Homo sapiens: one gene and its partner. The protein of the gene in region 1 interacts with the protein of each later gene in a biochemical or structural test. Each region holds a gene or a part of one and is shown on either strand. Other genes may lie near its edges. The genes, in order: ST7 and DCAF4.

Region 1 (8,302 bases):
TTGCCCCTGAGTTAAATCTTAGTATTCTTTGTGTCTGTGTTTGTAAAATGTAAGATTTGGAATTTCTTTTCATGTAATTGATTTTTCATTCCTTTATACAACACTCAATATTCATGAACATGTACCATGTGCCAAATGCAGCACAATTTGTACTAGATTAAAATTCAGAGGACTAAAATTAACCACAACAATAACAAATTACTTAACCTTAAAGGCCTCCATTTAATAACAGAGAGGAAAGATATGGACAAGGTGTTCTGCTCAGCATTTTTGGTATGCATATCACTCAATCTTCACAACAACCATATGTAAAAGGCATAAGTGTAACCCATTGTACAGATGAAGTAACTTAATAACTTGCCAAAGAGCACCCAGTTAGGGAAAGGCAGGATCAGAAATACAGCCCAGCACTGTTTACTCTAAACCTGGTTGTTAATGACCTTCCTGGTGCTGCATCTCACAGGGAAGAGACCGTGAGCTCAGGGGGTGGAGGGAGCTGGTGTTACCAAGGAGGTGGTATTTCAAGTGGTTCTCTAAATAACCCGTTATCAGGCAGTTGACGCAGGAAAGAATGTTGGTCAGGGAAGTGGAGCACAGAGAAGTGTATTACAGGCAGGTTGTGTGGAGCAGGTCCAAAAGTGTGAAAGAGAATAGCATGTTTGCCAAAATGCTGGTGCTATTAAGGTAGGCAGAAGTGCCCTTGCAGAAGGCCTGAATACCATCTAGATTCCATCCTTTAGTTAGACACTGGGATAAAAGTAGGAGTGCAGTAGGGGTGGGGCCTTAAATAATTTTATGCAAGGAACGAGTTATCGGATTTGTGCTTTAAAAGGTAACTGGTAGAGAAGTGTGGAAAGTGGATGGAAGGAGGCAGTGGTGGTGCTTGCCGTGGTGCAAATAGAGGCAGGGAGCCCACTGCCTTGTTCTCTATGAATGATGATCAGGCTATCACCAAAGGCTGAGAGAAGTGGCGGCCTGAGTCTTGATGTACAGTGGAATATAGAGAGGAAAGGAGGTACATGATGCTCAGATTTCTGAATTAGGGAACTGGAAGGATGGTGCCCATTCCTTGATGGAACTCTAAAAGGAACAGATGAGGGTGAAGAGGTAATGCATTCCATTCTGCATGTGATGAGCTTGGTGATTGTGTGCCATTCCACTGGGTGATTATCAAGAGGTAGTTAGGCATATCTGGGGTGTCATTATTTCATTAACGGTCCCACTCAAGAGCCCCCCCCTTATCCGTGCTCTGCCTGTTTTTTTTTGTGTGTGTGTGTGAGGCAGAATCTCACTGCTACACCCAGGCTGGAGTGCAATGGTGCAATATCGGCTCACTGCAACCTCCACCTCCTAGGTTCAAGCAGTTCTCCTACCCCAGCCTCCCGAGTAGCTGGGACTACAGGTGCGTGCCACCATGCCCGGCTGATTTTTGTATTTTTAGTAGAGACAGGGTTTCACCATATTGGCCAGGCTGGTCTCAAACTCCTGACCTCAAGTGATCTGCCTGCCTCAGCCTCCCAAGGAGTGCTGGGATTACAGGCGTGAGTCACTGCGCCAGGCCTGCCCTGCCTGTCTTATCAGTCACCAAGGCCTGTCACTTCTGCCTCCCCTCCCTTCCTTCCTCCCTTCCTTCTCTCCTTCCTTCACTCCTTCCTTCCCTTTATTTTTCTCTCTCTGCCTCTTTCTTCCCTTCTTCCCCTTCTCCCCGCCTCCCTCCCTCCTTCCCTTCCCCCTCTCCCTCTTTCTTTCTTTCTTCCTTCCTTTTCTCTTTCTTCTTTCTTTCTCTCCCTTTCTTTCTTTCTTTCCCCTTCCTTTCTCTCCCCTTCCCCTTTTTCTCTTCCTCCTTCTTTCCTTTCTTTTTCTTCTTTCTCTCTCTCCTTCCTTCTTTCTTCTTTCTTCCTTTCTTTTCTTTCTCTATCTTTCCTTTCTCTCGCTCCCCTTCCCTTCCCCTTTTCCTTCCTTCCTTCCTTCCTTCCTTCCTTCCTTCCTTCCTTCCTCCCTCCTCCCTCCTCCCTCCCTCCCTTCCTTCCTCTCTCTTTCTCTCTTTCTTTCGACAAGGTCTCACCCTGGAGTGACTGGCACAATAACAGCTCACTAAAGCCTCAAACTCTCAGGCTCCAGTGATCCTCCAACCTCAGCCTCCTGAGTAGCTGGTAGTACAGGCACACACCACCACACCCAGCTAATTTTTAAAATCTTTTTGTACAGACAAGGTCTCCTTGTGTTGCCTGTGCTGTTCTCAAACTCCTAGACTCAAGTGATTCTCCCACCTCGGCCTCCCAAAGTTTTGGGATTACAGGCGTGAGCCATCTACTTCCTTAATATTTCTTAAATCTCCACTTAAATAAATCTCTGAGTTGGTCATTTGGATTGGTGTGTGCAATGCCCCATAACTATGAACACCTTAGCGTTTCTAGTAGGCCCTTCAAAATGACTCAGGCCTGTATCTTTAGCTTTGTCTGTATCCACACCACTCTGCAGAGGCTGCACTCCAGCTATACTGAAGCAGCCACAGTTTGCAAGAGATTATGCTTACTCACTTCTGTTTTGAAGTGTTTTGAAGCACAAAGGCATGTGTACAGTCCCCACCACATGCCAGGATGCACACCAGGAGAGGCAATGATATAGGGCTGACTTCCCAGGAGCGCCTAGTAGAAAATTAGAAGATTGTGACTTAGCGGAGTCATATTCATGTCCATTCATTGAAGTTCATTGACAGCAAAAAGCCAGGCCTCCGGATGTTCATTTAAATTAAGTAGTCAATATCCTAATTCAGTGACTCGCAGAGAATCTGGTGGGTTATTTAATCATCACATAAAATAGGTGGTTCATGTACTCATGTTGAGGCAGGAGACTAGGTTCTGGAGGCAGGGAAACTAAGGACTTCCTTGAACTACATTGAAAGGAAAACCCTAACTTTCCACGCCTAAGTAACAAAAGGACCAGAGGCTACCTTTGACCTTTTCTGCCTAGTAGATGGGAAATTGGCTGTCTGTAACCAATCAGACTGACTGCGGGTCCAATCTTCATTTGCAACTTTGTAACTTCACTCCAGCCTCTGAATGGTTGTTGTCCACAACTAATCAGACTGTGGGCGAGTCTTCGTTTGCATAGAAGCATAACTTCATTAAGTACATCCCAGCCTCTGATTGGTTGTTTTTTGCAACCAATCAGATGTTTGCACAGGAGTGTTACCTTTGTATCTTCATTTCAGCCTCTGGTTGGCTGCTTTCTGCAACCAGTCAGACTGATTGCGGGCTACCACTTCATTTACGTGAGATGAGCATGAGTTGCCAAAGGGAAACTTCTTGGGGGTATTTGGACCCAAGAAGATTCTGTATTCGGCCTTTGAGCCGCTGCTCCGCCCGCTCCCACAATGTAGAGTGTACTTTCGTTTTCAATAAATCCCTGCTTTCGTTCTTTTGTCGCTTCTCTGGGTGTTTTGTCCAATTCTTTGTTCAAAACGCCAAGAACCTGGACAACCTGCAGTCACGATCCTTTACTGGTGACAATATTGTTTTATTTTACTGAGATTCCATGTATCAGTGTTAGACACAAAAATCATTTGGTCATGTGCTGCCATAAATAACTATAAAGAAAGTCTATGTGTGCCAATTTCACTTATTCTGGCCTGGATCTCACTGTAGTAGATCAAATGTGAGGAAGAAACAGTAGCCGAGAGAGGCTGGAATTAGTAAAAATTTAAGAGTAGTTCCATCCATTATGTATGCCGTAATAGGCCCTATATGTGAAAAGTTAAAGGAGCTTATTTAATTATGAAGGAAACTATTATACAAGTAAGCAAAACAATTTATAATAAAATATTCTTTATGCTCAGAATTTTAAAAATAGATGTAGACTGGAAAACCTGCAATTTCCTCATTACCATCTAATACATAGAAAGTCAAATCACTTACGGACAGAAACAGACTTGAAAATTTCAGCTGAGAAAACATTTTAGAATAAAAGAAACATTTTATTCAGCACAGTCAAAACAAAACAAAAACAACAAAACAATGTTTAAAATGGACTTTCTGTTAGAGGTGGCCGTTTCACAGTCAAAATTATCCCAGAGAATTGTTTATATTAAAAACAGGCTGAGAATAGTTTGACCTCTGATCACCAAAAAACCTGGAGGATAAACATTCATCTGTCAAGATTTCTCTGGAAAATCCCTGCGCTGCTTCAAAGAGACAGAACAAAGGTAAATAGCATCTGCCACCCAAATCTTGCTGAATAGAGTGATTTATCTTCAGGCCTACTAGCCGGCGACAGGAGCGCACCTCCTCCCTTCTCCTAGCTGTCCCGGGTTTATTCATTCCCTGAGCCTGAATCCTGATAAGGGAGCAGAGTAGGGTTTAAGACCTCGGACCCCAGAATACACCACTGCAATTGAATTTTGGTTCCACCTTAAGGTAAACTACGCAGCTGCTGTGAGCCTCAGTTTCCCTACCTATAGAAAGAGGATCGTAGTGGGGAATTGTTGCAGGGGTTAAATGAGATTGTACGGATCGTGGAGCAGCGCCTGGCGTGTGGTAAACGCTCAACTTATGCGGGTTGTAACTGCCTGAGGCGTTTCCTTCGGCGCGCCACTTGGCCTTCTCTTTCTAAATATTAGCATAATAAATATAAATGGACCCAGAACGCGAGGGGGCAGGGGCCACGTGATCGCTCCACGAAAGCCACTTGTAGGGACCTTTAGAGAGTTAGCAATAAGGCTGGAGAAGGAAAAGCCGGCGCGCCCGCGGCCCGCGCGATTTCCCGCCGAGCCCGCGTCCCCGGCGGCGGGCGGGCTCCGGGGGCGCCCGGGCCGCGGCGGCGGCGGCGGCGCGAGCTGCGCCTCCGGGCCGGTGAATCATCCCGGCAGACACCAAGAGCCGCGGCAGCAGAGAGGAGCGCTGAAACATGGCTGAAGCGGCCACGGGCTTTCTGGAGCAGCTCAAGTCCTGCATAGTTTGGTCTTGGACGTATCTGTGGACCGTGTGGTTCTTCATCGTGCTATTCCTGGTCTACATCCTGCGGGTGCCTTTGAAAATCAACGACAACTTGAGCACAGGTAAGGCCTGGGAGCCGGGCCCGCGGCGCCCACCCCTCCCCCGCCCCGGAAAGTTAGTGCAACTCGCGCGGGGCCGCGGCCAGGCGCGCGCTCGGGGACGCGCCGGGGCCCGCGCACCGGAGGCCCGCGGCTACCCGCCAGCAACGCGGCGGCTTAGGCGGCGGGGCCGGGCAGCTGGGCGCGCGGGGGCGGCCGGTGGCCTTCACGGCCCCGCGGAGGAAGAGCTGCGCCGCGCACAGCCCGCAAGGCGGGCCGGGCCGGGCCGGCAGCCGCCCTGCTGCGTCGCTGGTGGTCGGGAGACGGAGAAGAACGGGTGTCGCGGGCGAAGGAGTTCCCAGGACACCCCCTCGGGTGTCTGCGCCGGAACTCCGAGGGTTCCCCGGAGTTAGACCGAGTCCTTCCTCACGCCCTCCCGGCTGTGGGTGCCAAGCGGCCGAAGTGTGGTCGGGGAGGCGCCCTCCCGCCCGGCCGCGGAGGCCCGAGGGCGGCTGCCGGAGGGTGCTCGGCGGCGAAGCCCCCTGACCCGGCCGGGCTGTCCGGGCGGCGCCCTCCGTGGCCCGGAGTTGCGTCTTGCCGGGCGTGGGGCTGTCTCTCTGGTTGGGTAGTGGGGAGAGGGGTTCCCGAAGGCACTCTTGGGAGTGTATGGATGACGTGTCAGGTCACCAAATGGATTGTCGAAGGGACCGGAGGGAAGAGGGGAGAGCTGGAATTTCTGAGGGTTTCGGTTGCAGTTTTCAGTGATCTTTGCTCGTCTCCCTTCCCTGTAAAGCTACATATGCTCAGCAAGTGCCGCGTGCCTCCCATCCTTGGTCGGTGGTAAATGCAGGAGGTAATTAACAGGATCTTCACAAACTTGGAGCCAGCCCACTGAGTCGTTAAAAAAACACCCGCAAAGAAAACACACGAGCCTTAACACTCCAGAGAGTTCCGAAACACAAAGTAAATTTCGAGCTAAGGGTTACAGTCCTTTAAATCTGGAAATTTCAAGGTAGAGTGTTTTTGTTTTTGTTTTAAATTTTAATTTCACAGTACTGGGAAATTCTTACAGTCCTGAAGATATATACATATGTACACATATATATCTTCCCTTGTTAATCTCCATACTCTGGGAGTGCAAGTCTGGAAATGCATTTTCCTCAGGTGTTTAGCTGCATTAAAACGCTTTTTAAAACGCTTGAGATAATGTACTCATTTTGTTAGGAAACTTGTACCTTTCAGATACTAACTTAAGTATTTTGATTACTAACTTGAACTCATGTTCATATTTACATTTGTTTTGTAGTATCCCTCGGGATCGTGTCCCTGGGAGGCGGATAGGATTCAGCACTCTAGAATTGTCTCACCATTTGAATAGGTGCTGCTCAGCCCTTTTGAGTCTGTCATCGGAAAGACCATGGCTTTCTCGCTTTTCATCTTTTTGGATGGCTGCTTGTCGCAATATTGTCTTCTTCGCTTTAGACAAGTATGTCTCCAGGATACCTTCTGGTCTCAAAGTTCTATACCTTTAAGAAGTTGTTTGAATATATGTTTTAATGGAATTACGTATTTGTTGGTAACAGTGTTAGTCTGTTTTGTGCTGCTGTAACAGAATACCACAGATTGGGTAATTTTTAAAGAACACATTTTATTTCTTGTAGTTCAGGAGTCAGGGAAGTCTTGAGATCAAGGGACTGGCATGTGGGGAGGTCCTTCTTGCTGTCATCCCTTGGTGGAAGGTGGAAGGGTAAGAGAACATGAGAAAACAAGAGGGGGCCCACTTTCACTTTTATAACAAACCTACTCCCTCAATAACAAAATTAATTCATTCTTGAAGGCAGAGCCTTCATGACCTAATTACCACTCACAGGTCCCACCTTTCAACACTTTTGCACTTGGGATTTTCAAACACACTAGTTTTTAAAATATTAATGTTTCTCCTTATTACACACTTAAAATTTTATTTCATGATATACATTTGTATATCACATTTTCATCAGGTTAAATAATTACCCATGTATATATGTGTAAGTGTCACATCCAGTGCTCTGTGCAGATCAGGCAAGAAGCAAAATATCTACTGGGAAAATGTGTACTTCTTAAGGAAGGGCATTGTTAGGTCTTCTAGCAATTTAAATCTAGCATTTCTCAGAGATGCCTTTGTTAATTTGTGTAGGGGCAGTTCTAAGAGATAGCGAAAATATGAAGATGAACGTGCCATCCGGGCTGTACCTTGCTAGACACATGATAGAAGACCTGATGATGCTGGACTTTTCAGTTTGGTTTCATGCTCATTTCAGTCATAAAGAAAGATAAAAGGGGAAGCACACAGAGAGCACTCACCTCTCTGCTGTTTTTATGAGAGGGTAGCAGGATCTGGGGTGGGAGGAGGACTTTGGCATTAATTTTGAGACATGAAATTATAGCCACAAACCACCCTAGAACAGTTTAGGTTTTTCAAAAAACAGTTGCAGACATTAGAGGCCTATTTTCTTCCCTTTTAAGTAACAGTGAGAAGTTATAGTAGGAAAACTGCCAAAAGGTTGTTGTCAACTTAATTCCCTCCTTTCCTTGCCAATTCCCCTCCCCTTTGGGAAAAAGTTTCTGTACTGAAGTTATTGGCAAGGAAGGCCCAGGGAGAAAGAAGTCATTAGCCAGCACCCCTGAGAGGGGAGGCAGGAGCTAGCCTGGTCTAACTTGTCCTTGCAGGGAGGTCTAAAAGAGTTCTAACGGGACTAACTTTGCTGTTCTTCAGCCCTGTGGTGCTTACTCTTCCTGTGATGAAGGCAAGTGTGTTCCTGGAGAGGTTACTGAATCTGGAGCTGCTTTTAGGGAGTTGCAGATGGCGCAGGCCTCCCTTCCTCCTCAAGGAAGCCAAAGACACCATCACAATCAGGCAGCCAGGAGCCAGGGCTTCCATAGGCCCAGCTCTGTACCTGTAGGGGGATGGAATCTGCTAAAAGTGTTCTGGAGTCATTCTTGGATATCTGCTTGGTATCTTCTCAATATCTTGACCATCTGTGACAATTTTAATCCTCATTTGATCATATTTTATGGTAAATGAGCTTAACTCGATTTTTTTTTAATTTAGATGCCTCCTAATGTACTATAACAGGTGCTATGATAAGAAAGATGAATGAGTTTGTAAAACCCAGGGTAAATAAGGAGTTTACTACAAGAATACAACTTCCCATATGCAAGATGGGGCTGGGCAAGGCTGTGAGAGCTTCTCTTGAATTGAGCCTAAGAGGATGAGGAGAATTCCATGAT
Region 2 (7,620 bases), on another chromosome or scaffold:
AGGAGCCATTGTTTAGGACAATGAATAAGATAAAAGTTTTGGAGCCGGGCTTGGTGGCCCACGCCTGTAATCCCAGCACTTTGGGAGGACGAGGCAGGTAGATCACTTGAAGCCAGGAGTTCTTGAGCAGCCTGGCCAACATGGTGAAACCCCATCTCTACTAAAAATACAAAAATTAGCTGGGTGTGGTGGCAGGTGCCTGTAGTCCCAGCTACTCGGGAGGCTGAGGCAGGAGAATCGCTTGAACCCGAGAGGCAGAGGTTGCAGTGAGCTGAGATGGCGCCACTGCACTCCAGCCTGGGCAACAGAGCGAGACTCCATCTCAAAAAAAAAAAAAAAATACACACACATTTGGGCTGCAGGGGCAGGGATATTGCTTTCAGAGAAGAGAGGTATAGACAGGCAAAAGAGCAGATCGGGGGTTAGAGAGAAATCATGAACTCACTTTTGAACCTGTTGGGTCTGTGGAGATAGACACGAAGCAGCATAGGAACTTGGTGCTCAGTAGCGATATTAGGGTTGGAGCTGCATCTGCATTGGTAGATGAGGTGGTGTTAAGTCTGAAAAGAAAAGGATCTAGGACAGAACAATGGAAAGCACATACAGGGTGTGTGACCCAGGAGAAATGAGCAAAGGATTTATTTAGCAAGAAGAAAACCAAGAGAAAGATATTACAGAAGCCAAAGGAAGAATGTAGCCTCCTGGTGCCACATGTTGCAGGAATAAGGGCTAAAAAGAGACCACTCACTTTGGCAAGTAGGTAATCAATAGCAAGAGCATTTTAGTAGAAAGGCGAGGAGAGAGGAAGCTCAACTGCAGTGGGTTGAGGAATATCGGGAGATGAAGACATTGAATTCGTAGATGTAGACCATTCTTTCAGAATATGCCCATTTTTTTGGATTAGAAATGGAACACTTACAAATGAAAAACCTGGGCATGTTTTTAAAAGCTGAGATAAGGAGAAGGAGACATTAACATATGGGGGAACAGATAGATGTCTGCAGTTCCTGGGAAGGAATGAAATCAACAGCCAGGTGGGATGGGTCTCCCTTGAAAAGGAGCAGTGATACCTGTTGTCCAAGACAAGGAAGAAGACAATTAGTAAAGGCAGGTATTTGTGGAGCAGAAGGGAGTGAAGTTAGGGGTTTCATGCCTGGCAATTTTTCTTTTCTTTTTTTTTTTTTTTTTTTTGAGATGGTGTCTTGCTCTGTCGCCCAGGCTAGAGTGCAGTTTACAGTGAGCACAATCTCAGCTCACTGTAAACTCCACCTCCCGGGTTCAAGCGATTCTCCTGACTCAGCCTCCTGAGTAGCTGGGATTACAGGTGCACGTTACAACTCCCGGCTAATTTTTGTATTTTTAGTAGAGATGGGGTTTCACCATGTTGGTCAGGCTGGTCTCGAACTCCTGACCTCGTGATCCGCCTGCCTCGGCCTCCCAAAGTGCTGGGATTACAGGCATGAGCCACCGCGCCTGGCCGACCTGGCAACGTTTCTGTGGGGTAGGAAACTATGTGGTCGACTAAGGGTAACAGGAAGGAAGTGGGAAGGATGTTGGGGGAGTGCTGGAGGCAGCCCTTCCCAGGTAAGGCTTGCTGTGGCAAATCTGATGATAACCCAGGGTGGGCCAGCCTTTTGCTGGTGCTGAGCATGAAGCAGCTGCCAAGAAGCAAACAGAAAAGCCCATGCCCACACACAGAGATGTATGGATTTTTTTGTTTTTCTCTTTTAGGAACAGAAATGAATAAAAGTCGCTGGCAGAGTAGAAGACGACATGGGAGAAGAAGCCACCAGCAGAACCCTTGGTTCAGACTCCGTGATTCTGAAGACAGGCAAGTGTGCCGCTCTGGGGAGCCACTTTTGCCCAGTGTGCTTCTGGCATTGTACACATGGCATGTCACACGATCACAGGTGTGGAGATCACCTGGGGGCTCGTCCCAATGCAGGTTCTGATTCTGTAGGTCTGAGGGGTCTTGAGGAGAGCCTGCCTTCCTAACGTGCTCCCAGGGCATGTCGCTTTGGTGGGTCAGCCCACCTCACTGAGTAGTGAGGAGAGAGGACCACTCTCTGTTCTTTCCTAAGTGACCACGACCTCTGGCCAGAGCATTCGCCATAAAGCTAGAGGTAGACGTTATCTGAAACAACTGGAAAACCGTTTCTCCATTTTGTAGACTTTTTATGCAAATACCTTTGTGGAAACCAAATTTTATTAATTCAGCCTAAGTCTCGGACAAGGATATACACTCATGCTTCGCTTAACAAGGAGGAATGCATTCTGAGGAATATGTTGTTAGGCAGTCGTGTCATGCAAACATCATAGCACATACGTAACACAAACCTACATGGTACAGCCAGCCACACACACCTAAGCTATATGGTGTAGCCAATTGCTCCGAGGCTGCAAACCTGTACAGCATGTGACTACTGAATGCTAGAGGCAGTCAGTACACAGTGGTATTTGTGTATCTCAACATAGAAAAGATACAGTAAAAATAGGGTATATAAGATTTTTTTTTAAATGGTATACCTATGTATGACACTCCTGTGAACAGAGCTTGCGGGACTGGAAGTCAGTGAGTGAGTGATGAGTGAACACAAAGGCTTAGGACATTACTGTATGCTAGTGTAGACTTTAAAACCCTGTACACCAGGCTACATTACATTTATTTATTTATTTAAGAGATGAGGTCTCACTCTGTTGCTCAGGCTGGTCTCAAACTCCTGAGCTCAAGTGATCCTTCTGCCTCAGCCTCCCAAAGTGCTGGGATTACAGACTTGAACCACCACCCAGGCCAAGGCTACATTAAATGTATTTTTAAAATAAAGTTGGCTGGGCCGGGTGTGGTGGCTGACGCCTGTAATCCCAGCACTTTGGGAGACCAAGGCAGCCGGATCACTTGAGGTCAGGAGTTTGAGACCAGTCTGGCCAACACGGCGAAACTCCGTCTCTACTAAAAATATAAAAATTATCTGGGTGTGGTGGCACACACCTTTACTACATCCTTCAGCCTATAATTCCCTCAGAAGCTACTTGTGGATTTACAAATCAAGTGTTTTAGCCGCAGCTCTATCCCAGTGTTACTGAACTAATCACCTCTGTCCCCCAAACCCCAGTTTCTCTGTCTGTAAGATTGTGTAGTCAAGTAAAATTTAAACTCTTTGTGCTACTGAATCCAATAAAGAATGAAATTCACCTAGCCTTGTAACTGCTGTTGTGCTGACAAATGAGCCCAGCTGGTAAAATTCTTATTGGCAGAGATTTCTATTTTTCCTTTTAATCTGGAAAATTCCACAAGACCTCACAAAATGCGCGAGTGAGAAGATAAGAAGAGGGAATCACTGTGACATCTGTCCTCTTTTAAAGAAAGAAAAAAGAATGAAAAACCAAAACCTTGCCCTATTTTGTTGTATTTGCAAGAGGGGATCAGTGCTTCTCAAGTAATCAGAAAGGTCAGAGATCAGAGGTGAAGGCTGCAGAACTGCCCGAATGGACTCCCTGCCCCCGTCAGAATGGCTGGAACTCAAGTCCTGGGCTGCAAGTTAACACAGCTGTGTGTCAACAGGTCTGACTCCCGGGCAGCACAGCCCGCTCACGATTCCGGCCACGGTGATGACGAGTCTCCGTCAACCTCGTCTGGCACAGCTGGGACCTCCTCTGTGCCAGGTAAGGCCACTTGCGGGGTGGGAATCCTGGCCCTTGCACACAGGGAAGGCTGAGACCCGTTCCTGGCTTGGAAGGAATTCCAGGAGCAAATTGAAACACTCAGGGAAGGAGCTGGGTGCGTCAGGAATGGTGGTCATGAGGCAAACCGCCTCCCCCAGGACTGAGCACAGTCCAGGATGTTGCCTGACAAGGCAGCTCATCCCCGCCCTCAGAAAAGACAGGCAGCCACGAGGTGGGGGGACAGGCCACTGGGCGCCCAACTCAGGTGGTCAGTTCACAGTGGTTGAAATTGGTGCATTTAATTTTTTTGTCTAAAGAGCTACCTGGGTTTTACTTTGACCCTGAAAAGAAACGCTACTTCCGCTTGCTCCCTGGACATAACAACTGCAACCCCCTGACGAAAGAGAGCATCCGGCAGAAGGAGATGGAGAGCAAGAGACTGCGGCTGCTCCAGGAAGAAGACAGACGGAAAAAGGTGGGCTCCTCACCCCTTCGCCCCCTGTCCTCTCCGCTCCTGCCAGCACCTGTCCATCCACTGTTGAAAAGGGTGCCAATTAGATGCCCCTGCGACACTTAGCAGAGGCACTTCAGGGGGTGTGGCCCTAGCTTTTCCCTGACAGGAAGAAGACAAGAATAAGAACAGCCAAGAGCCCCCTTCTTCCATCCCCGTTTTCTTGTTCGATAAGTTGTTTTTTTTTTTTTTTTTGAGGCGGAATCTCACTCTGTTGCCCAGGCTGGAGTACAGTGGCATGATCTCAGCTCAGTGCAACCTCCACCTCCCAGATTCAAGCAATTCTCCTGCCTCAGCCTCCTGAGTAGCTGGGACTACAGGCACGTGCCACCATGCCCAGCTAATTTTTTTATTTTTAGTAGAGACAGGGTTTCACCATGTTGGCCAGGTTGGTCTTGAACTCCTGACTTCAAGTGATCTGCCTGCCTCAGCCTCCCAAAGTGCTGGGATTACAGGCGTGAGCCACCACACCCAGCCTTCTTCAGCAGTTCTAACATTTTGTCATTCCTGAAGGAATCTTGGGAGGCAGTGTGATATAATTTTAGTAACTGTTTTTTGGGGTTTTTTTGAGACAGGGTCCCACTCTGTTGCCCAGGCTGGAGTGCAGTGGCGCCATCTCGGCTCACTGCAACCTCTGCCTCCCAGGTTCAAGTGATCCTCCTGCCTCAGCCTCCCAAGTAGCTGGGATTACAGGAACCTGCCACCATGCCCAGCTAATTTTTGTATTTTTTTTATAGAGATGGAGTTTCACCATGTTGGCCAGGCTGGTCTCGAACTCCTGGCCTCAAGTAATCCGCCCACCTTGGCCTCCCAAAGTGTGGGATTAGAGGTGTGAGCCACCATGCCCATCCCAGCTGTCTATTTTAAATAGAAGACCAGGATGCATGGTTTGGAATACAGGCCATCTTGTCTGTTTGCAATACAGACCAACAGGTCTAGACGCTAACATATTTTGTTGTCAAGGTAGGCAATGGAATGTAAAGTTCCAGCCCTGGGTCACCACGGGTGGAATGGAGAGTGGTGCAGACCTGTTTGCAGTCCCATTGCTGCACTCACGCACCTGGTGGCTTCGTCCCCCCGGGTGTATGTGGATGGGGAGCGTGGGCAGAGTTGACGAGCAGACTTTCCCACTCACACTTTCTTCTGCTGGGCCTTTCCTCTTGCCGAGGAAGGGAGACTTGGAAAGGACACCGTCAGATTTTTATGCATATAATTTCTGCCAATTTAGTGCCTGTTTCCTTCATTACATCCTATGGAACTAAAAACATTCTCCATCATCCCCTAACAAATAAATCTTCATTGAATTGTTCTCTTTTTTGTAATAAATATAGATTGCCAGGATGGGATTTAATGCATCTTCCATGCTACGAAAAAGCCAGCTGGGTTTTCTCAACGTCACCAATTACTGCCAGTAAGACAATGCCTCTTTGTTATGTTTTCTTCATGAATGTTCTTTTCCTGTTTCTTATTTTCATGGTATAAGAATCCAGTCTGGATAGACCATGTGGCTACCCCGTGAAGCACCTGCACAGTTGAGGGGCTCCAGTTCACACCCTGCCTTCTGCTGCTTAAACCCACCCTGAGAAAGCTGTTCTCTCTAGAGCGAAGGCGGGGGACTCTTGCAGGAGGATAGGGAGAGAGGATGGGGACGTAGGCAGAGATGTCTATTCTCTGTTACTCGTAAGTCATTCTAGTAGAAGCTCCTACAACTTCATTCCCATGACATTTCTGCATCCTTCTTTCCCTTCTAATGAGTTGTCACCAACAATGGGGCATTAAGTGGATGTGTGTGTACTAAACCTTATCAAAGTACTTATGATGGCTGATACAATTCTAACTAAAACCCTGTGAAATAGGCCGATACTTTCCCCCATTTCCTGAAGAAGAGACTGAGGCTCAGAGTGGAGTGATTTGCTCAAGGTAAAGCTAGAAGTGGGGAACTGTCTGACTCCAACACCTGAGCGCCCAGCGCTGCGTCTCCTGCCCCCACTGTACATGCTCAAGTGAAGAACCTGCATTTGAGGCAGCTTCCTGGGGCACAGCCCTCGGACCTTGGAGCAGGGCCCCTTCAGGGAAGGCCAGAAACACCGTAGGTATCAGGCAGGGCAGGCCCCTCCTGTTTTCCTCCTTCTGAGACAGAAAGTTAAAAATCTAGTTAGATCTGTTCCTCACCCTGCGAAACAAGAGGCGGCCGTATCCTGGGGCTCTTCCCGGCAGCCGTATCCTGGGGCTCTTCCCAGCAGCGGAGTGCCCTCCAGACCATTGTTTCATCTCCCGCACTTTCGTCATCTCAGGGGAAGGAGCTGTACTGAATGATGCAGACACAACTCCCTCTAACTCCCACTCTTTGACTCTGCAAATGGGCCACCCACTTCTTCATTTTCATCTTCCTGAGCGTTCTGTGGGGAAACTCAAATTCGGATAATCTGGGATCTTGCTCAGCTCCATTGCTGAGAAGTACTGTGGAGCAGGCTGACGAGGAGAGATGGGCGTCAGCGGGGCAGGGAAGGCCAGAGACCCCCGAATCTTCTTCATGGATGTCAGCTTCAGCATCCATGCCCCCACCCTCTGTTTCTGCAGTTTAGCCCACGAGCTGCGTCTCAGCTGCATGGAGAGGAAAAAGGTCCAGATTCGAAGCATGGATCCCTCCGCCTTGGCAAGCGACCGATTTAACCTCATACTGGTGAGTGGGAGGGGGACACCTGCCTAGGGTGTGGCTGCCACCCTCTGGACACTTTGTGGCTTAGCGTTGCCAGTCATCAAACCTGGCTCTGGAGAAGCCAACTGCAATGAAAGTAGGTGGCATCTTCTTGGTTGTACGATTTTAACCTGCCTGCTGGCTACCCGCTGGGAGACGCTGAGCTGGCAGGCAGGCTGTGGGGCGACCATCATCACCCCCCACTTCAGCTCCGTCGTTTAACGTCAGAGTCTGGACCCAGCCACACCTTGACTACTGAACTTTACACAATAACTTCTCCTTGGCTGTGTTGTATATGCAATTAAAAAGGCTCACAGTGGACCTGGGGACATCTGCTTCTTCCTGAACTGGGGCAGGACTTGGTGGCTAAACCTGCAGCCCAGTGTGCCTTTGGTCACTAGAGGGTAGGACTCCTTGCTTGCCGCCCCTGGCTTCAGTGGCACCTCCCATCAACACACCTCCATTACATCATTTGCAGGGGGTGAAAGGCCTTCTCTGGTTTGGGTTGGACCCAAGCTGGAAGCCAAGGTCAGCCGCTTAAACCCAGGGGCCAGGGAAAGGTTGGCAGAGAGCTAGAAGGACCACTGCAAACAAAGGTCCCTGACCTTTCGATGGACCACGTAAGAGCAGGGCCTGCCCGGCAAGCCCTATCCTTCCTGGAGGCTGAGGGAAAGCCAGGGAGAGTGAGAGGAGGATACAGAGGCAGGAGCATCTGGACTCGGTCATCTGCTGGTGGGACTGGAGGCCG

Evidence for each region.
Region 2: of the proteins of ST7 (region 1) and DCAF4, one has a biochemical effect on the other in vitro, tested with the Homo sapiens proteins (one study listed by BioGRID).

The regions. Positions count from the first base shown.
Region 1 is NC_000007.14:116,948,636-116,956,937, forward strand, and holds the start of ST7 (suppressor of tumorigenicity 7 protein), read left to right. Parts: upstream 1-4,865; 5' UTR 4,866-4,905; coding exon 4,906-5,056; exon of another isoform or gene 5,057-5,699; intron 5,700-5,825; exon of another isoform or gene 5,826-6,044; intron 6,045-6,338; exon of another isoform or gene 6,339-6,518; intron 6,519-7,787; exon of another isoform or gene 7,788-8,088; intron 8,089-8,302. UniProt on the Homo sapiens protein: May act as a tumor suppressor.
Region 2 is NC_000014.9:72,936,240-72,943,859, forward strand, and holds part of DCAF4 (DDB1- and CUL4-associated factor 4), read left to right. Parts: intron 1-1,710; exon of another isoform or gene 1,711-1,731; coding exon of another isoform or gene 1,732-1,739; coding exon 1,740-1,831; intron 1,832-3,562; coding exon 3,563-3,663; intron 3,664-3,980; coding exon 3,981-4,138; intron 4,139-5,505; coding exon 5,506-5,585; intron 5,586-6,754; coding exon 6,755-6,857; intron 6,858-7,620. UniProt on the Homo sapiens protein: May function as a substrate receptor for CUL4-DDB1 E3 ubiquitin-protein ligase complex.